Regions from separate parts of the Homo sapiens genome. Here region 2 is linked to region 1. Evidence: fine-mapped expression QTL. Tissue or cell type: whole blood. Region 1 holds a variant in brackets; the other region holds the start of a gene. All regions are shown on one strand. Distances are between the middles of the regions.

What was found. PIP is the estimated chance that this variant, and not a neighbour inherited with it, causes the effect.
Region 2: GYPC starts here. The variant in region 1 is fine-mapped to the expression of GYPC in whole blood (TwinsUK, PIP 0.95).

Annotation. Positions count from the first base shown.
Region 1 is chr2:127,139,829-127,147,932 of GRCh38, reverse strand. No RefSeq gene overlaps it. Among named protein-coding and RNA genes, the nearest start is that of BIN1, 37 kb to the right of the region's middle. The variant T/G (reference allele first, on the strand shown) is at 3,273.
Region 2 is chr2:126,652,120-126,660,223 of GRCh38, reverse strand. It overlaps GYPC (glycophorin C (Gerbich blood group)), which reads right to left and starts at 4,066. Exons shown (of 4, transcript NM_002101.5): 1 at 3,912-4,066. The coding sequence starts at 3,960. RefSeq lists enhancers at 2,367-2,596, 2,787-3,036, 2,494-3,333, 4,127-4,416 and a silencer at 3,667-4,036.

The sequences.
Region 1 (8,104 bases):
TATGAAATATCCAGAATAGTGCCATCTATAGAGATACAAAACAGATCTGGAGCTACAGGGGATGGAGCGATTGGGAGGGGTATTGGGGATGGAGCAATTGGAGGTGGTTTCTTTTTGGAGTAATGAAAATGTTATAAAATTGATTGTGGTGGTGGTTGCACAATTGTGTGAATACACTAAAAGCCATTGAATTGTACACTTTAAATGGATGAATTGTATGGTATGAGAATGATGTCTTAAGCTGTTAAACAATACATGTGAATATCTTTAGGAGAAAACTTGAAACTCCAGGAAACTCTGACCCTGTGGATGGCCCTGTCAATCTGCATGTCCCATGCTGGGACAGAGGTGAGTCCAGAAGTCTAGGCAAAGTTATCAAGATGAGGGTAAACTTTCTACTGCTATGCAGCCCTTGGGGGCCGGGGTCCCCCGAGCTGTCAGGATGCCTCAGCCCAGACCCTTGGAATTAAAGAGGCCTGTTGGCTGGACGCACTTCCAACTCCGGCACTCTCAGAAGAGGCTTCCTGGAGCCCCTCGGCTTTAATCCCCGGCTGCAGTGTGAGCCGGGCTCACTTGCTAAGCTCAGGAACTAAGCAGGCTGAGGGGCCAGCTCATCTTTCCCCCAGGACGTGCAGCCACAGGGATCCTGGGCCCTCCCTGCATGACATGCTGCTAAGAATAGCGAGAGGACAGTATGTGTGTCTCTGAAGATCTTTCTGCGAGTCAGGAAGTATTTACAGCCTTTCCTGGAATAGAGCTCCTCCATCTGCAGTACTGCTTGGGAGTGCCTTGTGGTCTCTCCCTTCAAAATCCAGCCTTAAATTCCCCTCCTCCAGGAAGCATACCTTGACTTAACCAAACCTCCCTGGTTGAATTTTTTGAATGACTAAACCTGAATTAGGCTGATGAACTGGTCAGCACCCTTTGAGAAGCAGGTTTGTTGGGCTGTGAGGAAGGGCTCTGGCCCCAGCATTTCCTCTCCAGTCTACCCATCCTCTTTTTGGACAACCTGATGTACACGTAAGTATTAGTTACAAATCTTTGGTTGCAAGTGACAGAAACCCAAGCCAAACCTGGGTAGTAGCCAGGGTGATGGAACCAGGAACTCACTGCTACCAGCACACCATCTCCCCTGTGGCCTGGATGTTGCCTTCTCTTCCATGGCACACTGGGCTTTTCCATACAGCCAAGGAGATGGCTGTAGAAGCTGGTTTGCCTCCTCTTGTATTGGACGCCTAATGGGCTTCCTCCTGGCTCCCGAGTTGAAAAATCCCTGGGAAGGGCTCTAATTGGCCCTACCTGAGTCAGGTGCTCTCCTCTGAACCAATTGCTGAGCTCAGGAGGCGGGTCAGACTACCTGGTGGAGGGGAGGCGCAAACCCTCGCAAGAGGGATGCCTGGTAGAGGAGTGCGAGTGGGGCTGGGTGCACCGGCGACGGTATTGGTGCCTGGTACTTCCCTGATTCTGTGCCGTGGGAGCTGTTCGGGATGTTAAACTCCTGGGAGATCAGGCTGAGGACGACAGTCACTACTTGTGCCTGCGCAGCATCCTCTTTGCCATAACAACGACCCCAGTTTCCTCTGGAGACCACCCTGTTGGCAGCCATGTGTTCATGGGGCCTAGGAGTGGAACACGTGGCCGGGACCATCAGCCAGCACAGTCCCTTTCCTGTGACCACAGCCCCGGCTCTCAGCAGACTGCCAGCACCTTGAGGGCAGGGTCTGCATGCCACTCAGCTCTGGGTGCGGCACAATGGTGGCTCCCAGACCTGGCCTACCTGACAAACCCCCAGGGGCCCCTGCCCAGGGCTGGTCCCAGGCATTTATATTTTTAATAAGCTCTGTAGGGAATATGAATAATTAGTTTTGGGAATGGTTGCTGCATGGTGTTTGTATACAGTAAGTGCTTTATAGTTGCTGGTGTAATGGGAAAGACTGGAGTCAGCTTCCCAGGAGTGATCATCCTGGCTGTCTTTGAGTTGCCCATGGACACAGAGCTGCCAGGACCCTCTTTGCATGTTTTGAGGTGGTCCTGTCACTCTGGGTGGGCAGACCCTGGCCCTCCTTGTTGGTGAGATGGCACTTGCTGACAGGATCAAGACCTTCCAATTCCAGGAGCTGGAAGAACCCCAGAGGGTTGGGACACTTGAGAAGACAGCCAGCTTGAAATGGGCTCACCCAATTAGTTCCAATCGGGCCACCTCAGGATGACTCAGTTAGAATGTCAGGGCCTTCTAAAATTAATCACAGCTGCCTCTGAAATCAGCACCTTGCATGAAGTCCCCAGCCCCTCTTGGCCCCACAGAGGTCTTGGGAACTTGAGGGAGCTGGTTCTGGCCCAGCACCATCTCTCAGCCCCTCAGACATTCATCTGAATTTAGATTTGCTAACAGGCAGTTTTCCTTCTGCTTTTCCTTTTTTTTTTCCTTCTAATCCTCTCCCTTCTAACTGCAAGCAAAGGCTATTTTTATGACCAGGGGTTTCATTTCTCAAAAGGAGGATGACAGGAGGTGGATATTTTAGTACAGTGTCCTAAGCTCTCATTAATGGAAGTTGGGTACAAATTTAATCCAATATATTCAGTTTTTCTTCCTCTCAAGATGGGTTTTTATTTCTTCTGAATAAAAAGGTTGACTATGAACATTGTAAATTCAGGTAATACAGGAAGTTCTACAGAAAAAAGGAATAATTGCTGGAAATCCCTTATCCAGAGAGAAACAATTGTTGGCATGTTGATGCATACTTATAAAAAACCCTCCCAGTGCTTTTCAAAAAACCCCCTAAAAGTCCATAGACTTGAAAAATAAAAATGCATAATTTGCATATATGGAAATAAATGATAATTCCAAGAAAGTCTTTGGCTTCTTTGTGACAAGAAAGTCTGTTGGAGGAAAGAAATCAGCTATTTGGAGGCTCTACATCAATGTCACTTTTAACCTTTCTCTCTGTCTGATTGTTAGATTATAAATTTAAATTTAATTCTTCTAGAAGACAGTTGGATTCATGTATATATACAAAAAGACAAACCTGCCGCGGCTGCAGCAAATACAATGGTAGGAATTTATCTTAGAGCAGAGTTTCCCAAGCTTTCTTGGTTCTTGGTGCCTTTAGTGTTTCAGAAATGTTTTCATGGCTTTTCCTAGGCCAAAAGAAGCACCTAATAGTTCCATTTAAGTAGTTAGGTCCAAACAACAATTTAGTAGTTGTTTTAAAAAAGTAATACACAGAATTTGAAAGAATTTTTTTTTTATTTCATACTTAAGTAACATCAGA[T/G]GGCAACAATGGCCAATAGGAGGCAATGGAACAATGTCTTCAGTATTCCGAGGGACAGAGATTTGCGGCTTGAAGGACTGTTCATCAGAGGGCAGTGCCTGCCTCATCTGCATGCTGCCAGCACTGCTCCAGGGCTTGGCTCAGCCAGAGTAAATGCTCAATGCATCTGTGCTGAATAAGTGAATAAATAAACAAATGGATGAATGAATGAATTTTTAGGGTTGTCACACTTTCCAGTTTTTCTTCAAAGTCCTTGAAGAAGAAGGCGTTGGTCCCTGAAGCCCCAGCCTTGAAAGTTTCCTCTGCATCAGGAGCCAGGAAGGCCCTGGGGCAGACGGCCCAGGAGAGAGCACCGGGTGGGCAGGCCCAGGAAATCAGTAGCCCTTTGCTTTCAAAGCCTGGTTTGGAAGAGAGTATGATTCAGTGGTTAAGAGGCCACAGACCTGACTCCAGAGTCTCCCTGTGTCTCAGTTAAATCATCTGCAAAACAGGAATAACACTAGTCTCTGTTCTCATAGCGAGAATGACCTGTGTGTGTCTAACAGCTTCCTGGTACACAGCGTTCCTTAAATACTAGCTTTAATATTAGTGGTTGATCTCTTAGAACAACTTTCTGCTCTCTAAAATGGAAATGACAACATTGAGCTCTCAGTAAGAATTAGAGGCAACACTTGTGGGTCGGCCTCGTCTCTCCTCCGCCCACTGTGAGATGTGAGAAGGCTGTGATGGGCCTGTCTGTGCTTTCCCTGCGGGTCCCTGTCTCTCTCTGAACTTTCTCTCCTGACCCTCCTGGTTTCCACACTAAAGAGGAACAGGAAGTGAAAGCAATAAAAGTGGGAAAAGGGCCTTTTTCTTTAAATTAGGGATGTGCTCTGATGTTCACCTCCTCTGTGAATTTTTTTTTCTTTTTGAGATGGAGTCTTACTCTGTGACCCAGGCTGGAATGATCATGGCTCACTGTAGCCTCAACCTCCTGGGCTCAAGTAATCCCACCCCAGCCTCCTGCGTAGGGCTACAGGCGGTGCCACTACACCTAGCTAATTTTATTTTTGTAGAGACAGGGTCTCACTATGTTCCCCAGGCTGATCTCAAACTCCTGGGCTCAAGCAATCCTCCCACCTCAGCCTCCCGGTGCTGGGATTACAGGCATGGGCCACCGTTTCCAGCCTGTGAATTGATCTTGATTTGGGTTCTTTGAGAGCAGCCAGCAGGCTGTGCTGTGTCTGACATGTAGAATTCCTGGATAGCAAGGCTTAGAAGCAGGAGAACTAGCTCTTGTAAGATCCTGGCTCTGGTCACTCCTGTTCATTCCAGAGCTGAGGGATCCAACTGACCCTCTGTCTCCACTACCCTTGACTGCTCACTCCTGGAAATTCACCAGTCTACATGTGCTCTGCAGAGGTGAGAGGACCTTTGGAGGAGCAGAAGGATGGTGGCTGTGGAAAGCTGGTGACCCTCAAGTCCACTTACAACGGAGATGGCTGTGTGTGTGACATCCCCTTAGTGCTAGACTCAAGCTAATCCTTTGGGGAATGTTTGAGGTGGACCAGGGGCCCTCATTTTTTTCTCTTTTATACAGGTTAGGACTCCTAGGACATCAAGTGGTAACTCATCATTATCACCATCACACAGCAGCTGGAACCAGCAGCCTCACCAGGCCTTTCTCCTTTAATAATGACAAACATGGTGTGCAGTCTGGGCCACTTAATCCTGTTCTGCAGATGGGGACTCTGAGACATAAAGAGGTAAAGATCATGCAGGTGACAAAGCTAGCTGAAGATTAGTATTATGAGATATGAGAATAGTAACTGAAGGGTTGATTTGTAAATGTGAAAAATTGGAAATCAGCCTTGATTTCCAACAATAGGGTATTGATGTGTAATACAACCACACAGTAGGGTATTGTATAGCGACTAAGAATGATACAGCAGTATTTGTTGACCTGGGAACATTTTTCACAATATGCTTTAAAAAAAGATAGATAAGTGCTTATTAATAATATAGGTACAGGGACTCAAGTCAAAGTGGGGATATATTCTAAACTCTGGCGACCAATTTCCTAAACCATGTAGTTTTTGCTATAGAAAACATCTAGCTGTGGGTCTACTTGTAATACTCAGTATATTACCTTATTTCATATGCCATTTATTTTTTCTTTATGAAAATGGTGTCATTCATCTTTATTAATGTAGTTGAAATTCATAAACTTTCTGTGTGAATCATTTAATCAAGAAAAATGTGTTACGGGGATAGATTTTATATAAATGAGAATGAAATGAAATGTTTCATTAAAATATGTAAAAGTTGCCCAGTATATCTTAAGGAGAAATCGTATGTGTATAATATTATTGTATTTTTGTAAGATAAAACAAATGTTGTAAGACCTTAAAAATATTGTTAGGAGAAAAAAATACACGTATGCATAGAAAAATGTCTAGAAGGATAAATGCTAAAATGTTCATCCTGGACCTCTGCAAGATGGGGCTATGGGTGATTTTTTACCCCTTCCTTTATTGTTCACCTGTATTTTCTAATTTTTCAATAACGTTCATGTGTTACTTATTTAGAAAAGACAGGAGATGAATGTTTAAAGTGATGGATATGGTAATTACCCTGACTTGATCATGATACAATGTATATATGCATTGAAACATCACACTGTACCCCATAAACATGTATGGCTATTATGTATTAGTTATAAATAAAATATTAATAAGAAATAAAAAGATAAGGGGGGTACTGGGCTGGGAGTAAGGAGACTGCATTCTGACAGCAACTCTGCCTCTAACTGACTGTGTGATCCTGGGCAAGTCCTTTCCTTTCTGGTTTTCGAGTCTTCATCTGTAACACGAGGGGTTGTTAGCAGACAGGAAGTTCCGCGAGAGCTGGGACCATGTCTGTTTTGTTCTGGCAGTGTCTGTAGCACAGGCTATGCTCTGTGTATACTACATTAACGAGTGTGTGCATGAGTGAATGGAATTAGCGGCTGTGATCATTGGGAGAGTTTTGGAGACATGGCCTGCTGCAGTGGTCCTCCAGTGTGTTCCAGAAGCAGAAGCCCGGGAGGTTGTAAGGCTTTTTCTGGATGCTTTGGAAAAATCACGGGGCAGAGCTTTGCATTCGACTTACCCGCATGGGACGGCAGTGGGCTTAGTGTTGAACAGAGTTGAGTTAGGGACGTAGTGCTGCTCTTTGCCGGCAGTGAAATCTTGAGAAAATTTTGTATTTTTTTCTCTAAGCTTGTCTCCTCATTTGTAAATTGAGAGTTATTACTAATACCTAGCTCATAGGGTTGCTCTGAGCACTTGAAAAATCTATTTAGAAATTAGCTAAAAATGGCAGACTGAACCCCAACCACTTTTTCCTGTCCCAAACCCTTAGAAATACCAGAAAAAATAAATACATGTCATCCAAAAATGTTCTAGGAGACGAGAAGGGGCCTCGGTGGATTTAAAGTTGCGAGGAATTATTGAAAGAAGGAAATTGGTGGGGTTGAAAGGAAGAAACCACTGCCCAAAATACGTATAGGGAGACCTGCTGTCATAGGCAGTTTTGAAGGGAATTTAAGCTTGAAGATGGTGAATGGGGTGGTGGTGACTGGTAGGTCGTGGGTTAGGATGTTGCAGTAGGAACCACAAAGCCAGCCAGCTATCTACTCCTCCCACCACACCTTTCCCACTTAGCCAAATAGCAGGCAGCAGGGATCTCTGTCTCCCTCCTGCCAGTGTGAACGCCCAGCCTAGGGAGGCAAGGTGACACTCTGGACAAACGGACCTCGGATGCAGGCACACCACGTCCACCAGCTTGTTTTCCACCCACGGTCATCTCTCCCACACCGTGGCTGGAGGCATCACCCATAGACTGGGTAACAAAGAACCTCAAACACAAGACGAGCACACACCAGAGCCGCTGAACACTGAGGAAAGCACTGCCATGACTGGGACGCAGAGCACAGGAAACAGACTGATACCCAGATAAACAGCAAGCAGAGCACACGGACGAAGCACAGTTAATCTCAGAAAGCTGTGAGAGGAAACGGTGTGAGGCCTTAGAAATAAAAAAGAAGACGCTCAAAGGTATATTCAAAAAGGGGCTTTTGGAGTATGATCAGACTGGATGTAGGTCAATAATAGCATATTAGTGAACTGGAAAATCAAATTGAGGACTTCATCTAGAATGCCCCGCAAAAAGAAGAGATAGAAAGCATAAAATAAAAGTGAGGATATATGAAGACTAGATTCAGAAATGTTAATACCTTTTAAATAGGAGCTCCAGAAAGAGGGACTAGAGAGGTTGGATGTGGGGAACGCTAAGATTAATAGAGAAGGAAATTTCTCAAGTCTACAAAAGACAAAAGTCCTCATCCTGAAGGGGCCCACTTCATGACAAGCAGAACAGAAAATGATAGACTGGCTGGGCTGAAACTTAGAACATGAAGGATGGAGAAAAGGAAAACAGATTACTCCTAAGAGAAAGCAGACTAATATTAGATTTAGCTACAACACTGCATGTTGGAAGATCTTCAGAGACCCAGGGGAAATATTTTTAGAGATCTAAGGGACACATGTTTGAATCGGCTAAAGCCATCATTCAAGTGTGAAGGTAAAATATGTAAAGACAATTTCAGACATCCACAGATGAGAAAATGAGTCACCTTCCATCCTACCTGTAGGAGGAGGTACTTCAACACAATGAAAATAAATCCAAGAGAAAGCTACAGATTCAAGAAGCAGTGGTGAGTAAAGGAATTAGAATTTGCTGCTAAGTCTAAATGGAACTGGAACTAAAAGCTCAAGTGGTATTAACATTGCAGGTGGGGAGGAGAAGGAGAG
Region 2 (8,104 bases), 490 kb after region 1:
AGCTGGGGGAGGCAGGCGGGTCCTGAGTGTCTGTGCATGCAGTTCCTCAGTGTGCAGAGCCACAGCAGCAGGCCCTGCCTGGCACATACAAGCTGTGGGCCCACATACCCTGCAACTCTCTCCTTGGGTTGGCCTCAGTTGCCTGTGGGGTCTGGCAGTTTGTAACTACAGCCTGGCTGCGCCCTCAGTGTCTGGGTGCCCTATGGCGGCTTATCTCCCCCGAGCCTCTGGTGTTTCATCCGAAAGTCTCTACAAAAAATACAAAAATTAGCTGGGTGTGGTGGCGTATGCCGGTAGTCCTAGCTACTTGGGAGGTTGAGGCAGAGAATCTCTTCAACGCAGGAGGTGGAGGAGGTGGAGGGTGCAATGACCTGAGATCACACCACTGCACTCCAGCCAGAGTGACAGAGCACGAGACTCTGTCTCAAAAAAAAAAAAAAAAAGAAAAGAAAGAAAAAGAAAAGAAAATGCCTATCATAGCAGGTGTGCAGGGGAGACCCAGGAAAGCCCCTTACCAGGGCTCGGCATCTAAGTTTGTTGTTATTTTATCAAAAGCGAAAAACAACAGCTGTCTGGAGGGTGACTCCTGAAATTACCAGCATCCTCAGGCCAGGTTTGCTCCAATAAATTTCGCTAACAAAAGCCACCTCCCAAGCCTCTGCCACTGGGAGCAGGTCCAGGCCCTTCTGCTGTTGCTCTTCGGGTGACTCTGGGGAAGTGGCTGTTATCATTCCCACTCACAGATGGGAAAACTGAGGTGCTGAGGTATTTCCTCTCTCTCCCAAAGCTGGTGAACATTGGAGGGCAGTCAAACCCAGGGCTGACTCCACAGCACGGATGTTGCTCTGGCCTCTGCTCTGCCCCTCACTCGTCATGTGATGAGGACATGTCCTTTCACTTCTGGGGCACGTTTCCTCACGGGGGTGGGGTGCTGACAGGAAATGGACAAAAGCATCAACCGACACTTCCCCGAAAAGTAATACAACCTCTTATGGAAGTAAGAAAACATGCTCAGTCTCACTTAATTACAGAGGCTCATTCCAAAGTGACAGCGTTTGTTTTGTTGTTTTACCTCTCAGTTTGGCCAAGATAAAAAATGCAGTGTGAGTGAGGACGCAGGGAAATAGTGACTTTCATAGGCTATTTGTGAGCATGAGAAACCGGTGTGACCTTTAGGAGGGTAGTTTCTTAAGATCTACTAACATTTTAAATGAATACACACTTTGTCCCAGAAATCAAATGCTGAGGTGGGAGAATTTATCCTAACAGTTTACAGACACATGCATGTAAAATCCTCCTTACTCATTGTCACAGGACTGCTGTGTGTGGTTTAAAAAAATTAAATGAAGTCTGCATACAGCCTAAATGCCCATCAGCAGAGGAACTGATTAAAGAAAATAACAAGGTATAACCTTTAAGAGATATTCTGATGGAAAAAAAACAAGATGAAGTAAAATATATAAAATGCATTTTTATTATGTAAAATAAGAAATATTTGTATCAGCAAATTTACTTCTAGAAGGATTATCCTCAATAAATAAAGTAATTGCCATTGAGGTAGGGAGAAGGTGTCTTTCTCCTATTTTTAACTCTTCATTCACTGTTAACTTTACTGTTTGTTTGGTTTTGTATTTAGAGCGTGCTTGTTGGCCCACTGGGTATGCTCAGTTACTGGAAGATGTTTTGGCTGTGGCCTCAGACAGGCACTTGAGGCATAGATGTACATACAGGTCTGCCACCTGAAGAGGCAAACTGACTTGACTTGGCCCAACCTCTCACCTCTGTTGAGGGGACCTCTTCCTACTCACTGCAGATGGGTTCACTTGTTCCCACCACAAGCGCAGAATGCCTTGTACTTCACAACCCTTTGCTCCCCAGGGAGCTCTGCAAGTCCCCAGAAATACTTGCCCAACCACGGGCACCCTTGGAAGGGTCCAGCTGCTGACCACCAGCATCATGTGACTCCCAGTGCCAGTGACATCTGGAGGAATTGAGCAATGGCTGAGGTGGAATTTCATTTGGCACTTAATGCAATCCTCTGCTTCTGCCAGAGGCGGTGAATTCTATATAAAGCTGCCAAACCTGGCCGTCTTCTCACTGAGCCTTGACCCCTTCCATCCAAGGGCAAGGCAATGGATTGCTGTGCATGACTCACGCGCAGTAACTGTGGCATTGGGGCCTAGCCCAGCTGAGCTGAGCAGAGCAGGCCGGCCTGGCGGAAGTGGGTCCTCTCCGCTCTAACCTCTGGCTCTGATGAGCAGCTACATAAACTGAGACAGGATATAGACACATCCTGCCTGAGTTAGCAGCAAGAAATAGCCGCCCCCCACCCCCCCTGCAGTTCTCGCACAGCAGGGATCCTGCCATAAATCAATCCGAAGTCTAATGTGGAATGGCTTGCAAGCAAGGGCTGCACCGCTGTTTGTCTCCCAAGGCAAGTGTTGAAGGTCTGAAACCTGAGTCCTGGAGAACTGCTTGGGCTGCTGGGCTGGGCTGGGCACGGGGGCGGGGGTCAGGCAAGCCCATCCTCTTCAGACATGAGAATGCCTCTCAGCCTCACCTCCTCAGTGACTGAATTGGAATAATGACAGTGGCTCCTGTCCCTTTAACCCAGGACCTGCCGTATACACACACATAAACATATGCTCAAGTTACGTGCTCCGGGAACCACAGTCTCATGTGCAATTATATAAACATGCCCAGCACGGATCCAGCACTTAGGATGTGTCAGACTCCGTGCCGGGACATTTATACGCACTTCGTGCTGCTGGATGAGTTATCTCCTGTTATTATTCCTACTTTCCTACTTTGCAGATGAGGAAACTGGAGCTAAGAGAGGCTGCCTTGTTTATAGGCAGTGCAGATGATCCCAGTGCAGACTGAGGGGCCTCGCTCCCAAGCACCACTGATGCCTGCGCACTCCCAGGCTGACGCAAGCACAACCACAGGCACATGGAGTGCCGTGTACACACGTAGACCGAAGCAGCACTCCTCCACGCCAAGCTCCAAGCTCAGGCGGGGTGAGGGGTGAGGCCTCACAACCCCCTGGATTTCAAAGACTTATAAAAGAGTTGGTGTCTCCAATACCCATATCATTATCATATCAATAAGGTATCATTGTCACATGATAGGCTCAGGGTATCTCCTCTCTGACAGACTCTAAGAATCAGACCGCGGCAGGGTGGGGGTAAGAGGGATGTACATTACGTTTTTTGGTAAAATCAAATGGTAGTTTTTATTGCAAAAGTCCAACGGCAGAGGAAGAGGGCAGAGAGAGGCCCAGCAATGTTTCCAAGCATCTACAAAGACTTTCATCACAGATGATTTCCTCTCAGCAAGAAAACGTGATGGTTTAAAAGAGAAAACCAGCAGCGAGGAATTACAAATCCCCAAAGGATCCAGGCCGCAGGATTCCCTCGCATCTGTGTGCCTTTGCGGCGCCCAGCGGAGCGAGCAAGTCCCTGGGCAAGGCTGGAGTTGCCTGGAGTTCACCGGAGCCTGGCCGGTCGGACCCTGGCTGGGGAGCAGCACAGAAGCAACTTGTGATGTGAACTCTCACCTAACTGTTCTTTAGGGAGACAATTCTGGCCCCACACATTTCACATGCCCCGCACAAAGAAACAGAAAGCGGGCGACACGCCCTGGGAGGGCGGGCTGGCGGCTTCTCCAGCTCGGAGCGCGTGGAGGCTGCGCGTAGGGGTCCGGGACGCGGGACAGGGACTCCGCGCAGCCCAGGCGCCGGGGAACCGGGGCTGGAGTCGGGGATCTGAGCCCAGCGGACGCCTCCTCCGCCTGGAGGCCCGGCACGGACCGGGACACCAGGGCGTCCGTGGCCGTGGCTCGGCCCCTGGCTGCTGCGGGCCGCGGCCTCCAGTGGGTCCCCAGGACCCTTCCCCACGGCGGGTACTCACCGAGGCTGAGAGGCCACGCCGTGCTGTTGGGGCTTCTCGTCGACCACATTCCTGGGCGTCAGCCCGGGCAGAGACCGCGGGGACTGGCCAGGCCGGGCCAGGCCGGGCCGGGGGAGGGTCGCGCTCCCGGGCTCCTGACCCTCGGCGGCGAGAGGAAGCGGCACCTGGGTCACACTCCTCCCGCGCGGGCCGAGGGGAGGGGCTCTGGCCCGGAGATAGGCAGACTTCATTTATTTTTTTTCTGCAGACTTGGCTGGTGGGGTTTCCACCCCCTTTTTTTTTTTTAAACACACACCCGCCCACTTCTGAACTCTTCTTTGCTCCAACTTTCCTGCGCAAGAACCACGCTTTTCTAACCGTTTCTCTTTCCATCTGCCACTACCGGATACAGAGGTTGTGGTTGAGAATTCCCCCTGGAGTGCAGGGAAAACTCCCCAATGTGACATGATGGCCTGGCCCAGCACTGTCGGGGATGGTGACCAAATAGGGCAGACCTGTGTTGAAATCTTGGCTGGCTGCGCGGCCGCTGGATAGCTGGGCGGCCTCTCTCAGCTGCGGGGCATTTGTCCCTGGAGAGAGTCCCTGTCTTGTTGGCCTTTGGGGGCCCTGTACTCATGGATGGGCTGTTGAGCAAAGATCATTCCAAAACAGGAAGAATTGCTGGACAAGAGTCGTGATTTGTTCCCATTGCTTTTGTCTGAAGCTGCCAGACACAGTGCAGTTTGTGAATTCGCTCTACTTTTGCCATGAAAATCTCCACGTGGATTTCGATACATACCTTTGTTGGTTAAATGCAGTCAAATGGCACCACCTACAAAAAATGTATCATAGCATTATCTGCCCCTTCTGCCCAGAGACAAGGGCAGGGAACTTGAGGCCCTTGTTTTAAATCCCCACCCAGGGGAACACCCTGTGCTTCTCCTGTGTGATGTCTGAACCTTCCTGTGCTGCTTTTCATTGTTTACTTTATAGTTCCCCAAGCACTTTTGTGACGCCCACCTCTCCCCTACCTTCTGCCATTAAGGCCTATCCTGCACAATCCGGAGAGCCAGGCCAGCTGTCTGTACAATGTATGGGCGGTGCCTTTGGGACTGTCATCTGCATTGAATACAATGAGAGGCTGCGCCCTGGAGATTTGCAACACAGAGGCTTTGCTCACCTCTAGCCGGGCTGCACAAACTCCAGGCCTTCTTGACGCAGTGGGAAAGCACTCATGATTCACTTTAGTTAGATCATGAAGAACCCCCGATGCTGATAGATCTTTACTCCAACTGCCATGTGCAGCACAGCCATGTTGAATTGAAATAAACTACTCACAGAATGCCTTTGGCCTGGTGGGGAAGCCCTGAGTCTTGATTTCCTCATCTATAAAATGGAGGCAAGAACACCTGCATTCCGGGGTTTTACAGAGGCAGTGATTGTAGAATCACAGTGGGAACAGAAAAGGCATTTAATAAACAGCAATGAGTAATGATTAATTTATTTTTATTTATTTATTTATTTATTTTTCTGAGACGGAGTTTTTGCTCTTGTTGCCCAGGCTGGAGTCCAACGGCGTGATCTCGGCTCACCACAACCTCCGCCTCCTGGGTTCAAGCAATTCTCCTGCCTCAACCTCTCGAGTAGCTGGGATTACCAGCATGTGCCTCCACGCCTGGCTAATTTTGTATTTTTAGTAGAGACGGGGTTTCTCCATGTTGGTCAGGCTGGTCTCGAACTCCCGACCTCAGGTGATCCACCCACCTTGGCCTTCCAAAGTGCTGGGATTACAGGCGTGAGCCACTGCACCCGTGATTACTTTAACAGTTTAACTTTTTTTTTTGGTAATACATACACATACGTCTACGTGGAACAGTAGTCCCGCTCCTCTGTCCTGAGAGAAAATAACTTTAATTATCTGAAATGCAGCTGGAAAGTTGGAAAGAAGCAGAAAGTTCTGCCAGGTAACAACGGACAAGTCATTAGGTCATTGCAGCACACTTAGAGAAGTCACTTTTACAGACTCATTTAGAACCTACTGGCCTTAGACGTAATCATAAGAGATTTCCTTAATTTCTTAGGGTAAGACAGGTTGAAGGCATCAAAATGTTGCAGAGAATTCCTTACAGAAAATAAGCCAAAAATTAATAAACTAACGAACTAAACAGTGAAAATTGAAAGCCCCACAAACTGCAGAGGTCAGATACAAGAACGAAGTAGCATTTGTTACAGAACTAAAGCAATCTCAGCTCCAGCCATCACTGGAGGATGTGACAGTTCCTTGCGCTATTAAAGACCACAGGGCTTTGGAACTCAATCTGGGTTAGTTACTCTACTGCCTACTAGCTGCGTAACCTTCAGCATTTCACTTTCTTTCTCTGAGCCTCATTTTTCTCAGCCTGGAAATTGGAGCAATCTGCAAAGTTAGGCTGTTGTGAGTAATATATTCGATAATAATTAAAGAGGTAATTACAATGAGAGTACACTGGAGTTACTTAAAGATATTGGCCCCCTTCCTCCTCTAACACATACTTTGTTCATAGTAAGGACCCCAAGTCATTTGAAAAAGAAAGTAAATAGTGTGTCTTAGTGTGTAGCAAATTAGCTAACAGGGAAACATTTGACATATTTTAGAAAATTTAACTATGAAAGTGTCTAATGTTAAATAAATGACTCTTAAGAAGGGAAAATAATTATGTGAAAAATTTAATTATATGGTAACAGTCTGACATAAGTCAAGAAATGTATTATTAGTGTGTCTTCATGTGTTGGATATTTATTAATGAAGTTAAAAAAAAAACTCAGCTATATCTTGCAATAATAAACCAGTTCTTATCTTGTCTAGTTCCCATAAATACTCTTAAACGGAGTATTGCCAAGAGTCCATTGTAAAGATGAGAACCCAGAAGTTCAGCACAGTGACAAGAACTTGCTCTGCAGTGCAGCCGGGATGGACGGTTCTAGCTGTGTCTTCATTGACTGTCTGTGGCTGATACAAGCTGCAGAGCCCTCCAAGATGTGAGATGGTATGATCCAGTCCTGGAGATGAATTTTCTCTTCCTCTTCAGGGAAGAAACTGCTCATGGGAAACTGCCTTCCAAATCCTCAGTGCTAGTTCCTTATTGGGAGTGGAGTTGGCGGTCCCCTGCTGCTGTTGCTGTCTCCTGGGTGAGCCCTTACAGATGGTGGTAGGTAGATGTTGCTTGGGCCTTTAATGAAAGGTTTTGCCCCTCATCACAGTAACACATGCTCTTTGTGCAAAAAGAAAAAATAAAAAAGAAAAAGCCAAAAAGATACCTAAACCCTAAGAATTGCTTGCAATCTCCAGCACATTAAGGTTATTTACCTTTAGTCTTTTTTATGCATTTACGAATATTTGCTTTATACTCTTGAGATTTTACTGAATACGTGATTTCAAGTGCTGAGCTTTTACTACTAAACATTATGTCATGAGCATTTTCTCATGTAAAAGTAGAAAAGCTCTTTAACTCATTTTAATTACTAGGTTGTTTCATTTTCTTTGCTGGTTGAATAGTGCTGTGATAACCATATGAACATAAATATCTGGATTTCATAATTTTTTCCTTAGGGTATATTCTGACAAGCAGAATTACTCAATCAAAGGTTACAAATGCATTTAAAGCTTTTGATACATTCATAAGTTCTGGCTGTGACCTTTACTTTCTTCCCAATCAAGAGTACCAGTGTTTATCTCAGAGTCTCTTGCCAGAATTAAACAGCAAACTTAAAATCATAGTTAATTCCATAGAAAAGAAACATACATAGTTATTTGTGTCAGCATTTTCTTTGATTACCAGAGAGGCCGAATATGCTGTCAGTTGCTTATTTACAAATCACAGCTTCTTTTAGGTGAATATTTTGTTCACACTGTTTCCTCATTTGGAGGTGTGATGGTTAATACTGAGTGTCAACTTGATTGGATTGAAGGATACAAAGTATTAATCCTGGGTATGTCTATGAGAGTGTTGCCAAAAGAGATTAACATTTGGGTCAGTGGGCTGGGGAAGGCAGATCCACCCTTAATCTAGTGGGCACCATCTAACCAGCTTCCAGGGAATATAGAGCAGGCAGAAAAACATGAAAAGGAGGGATGGGTCTGGCCTCCCAGCCTACATCTTTCACCCGTGCTGGATGCTTTCTGCCCTGGAACATCAGACTCCAAGTTCTTCAGTTTTGGGATTTGGACTGGCTCT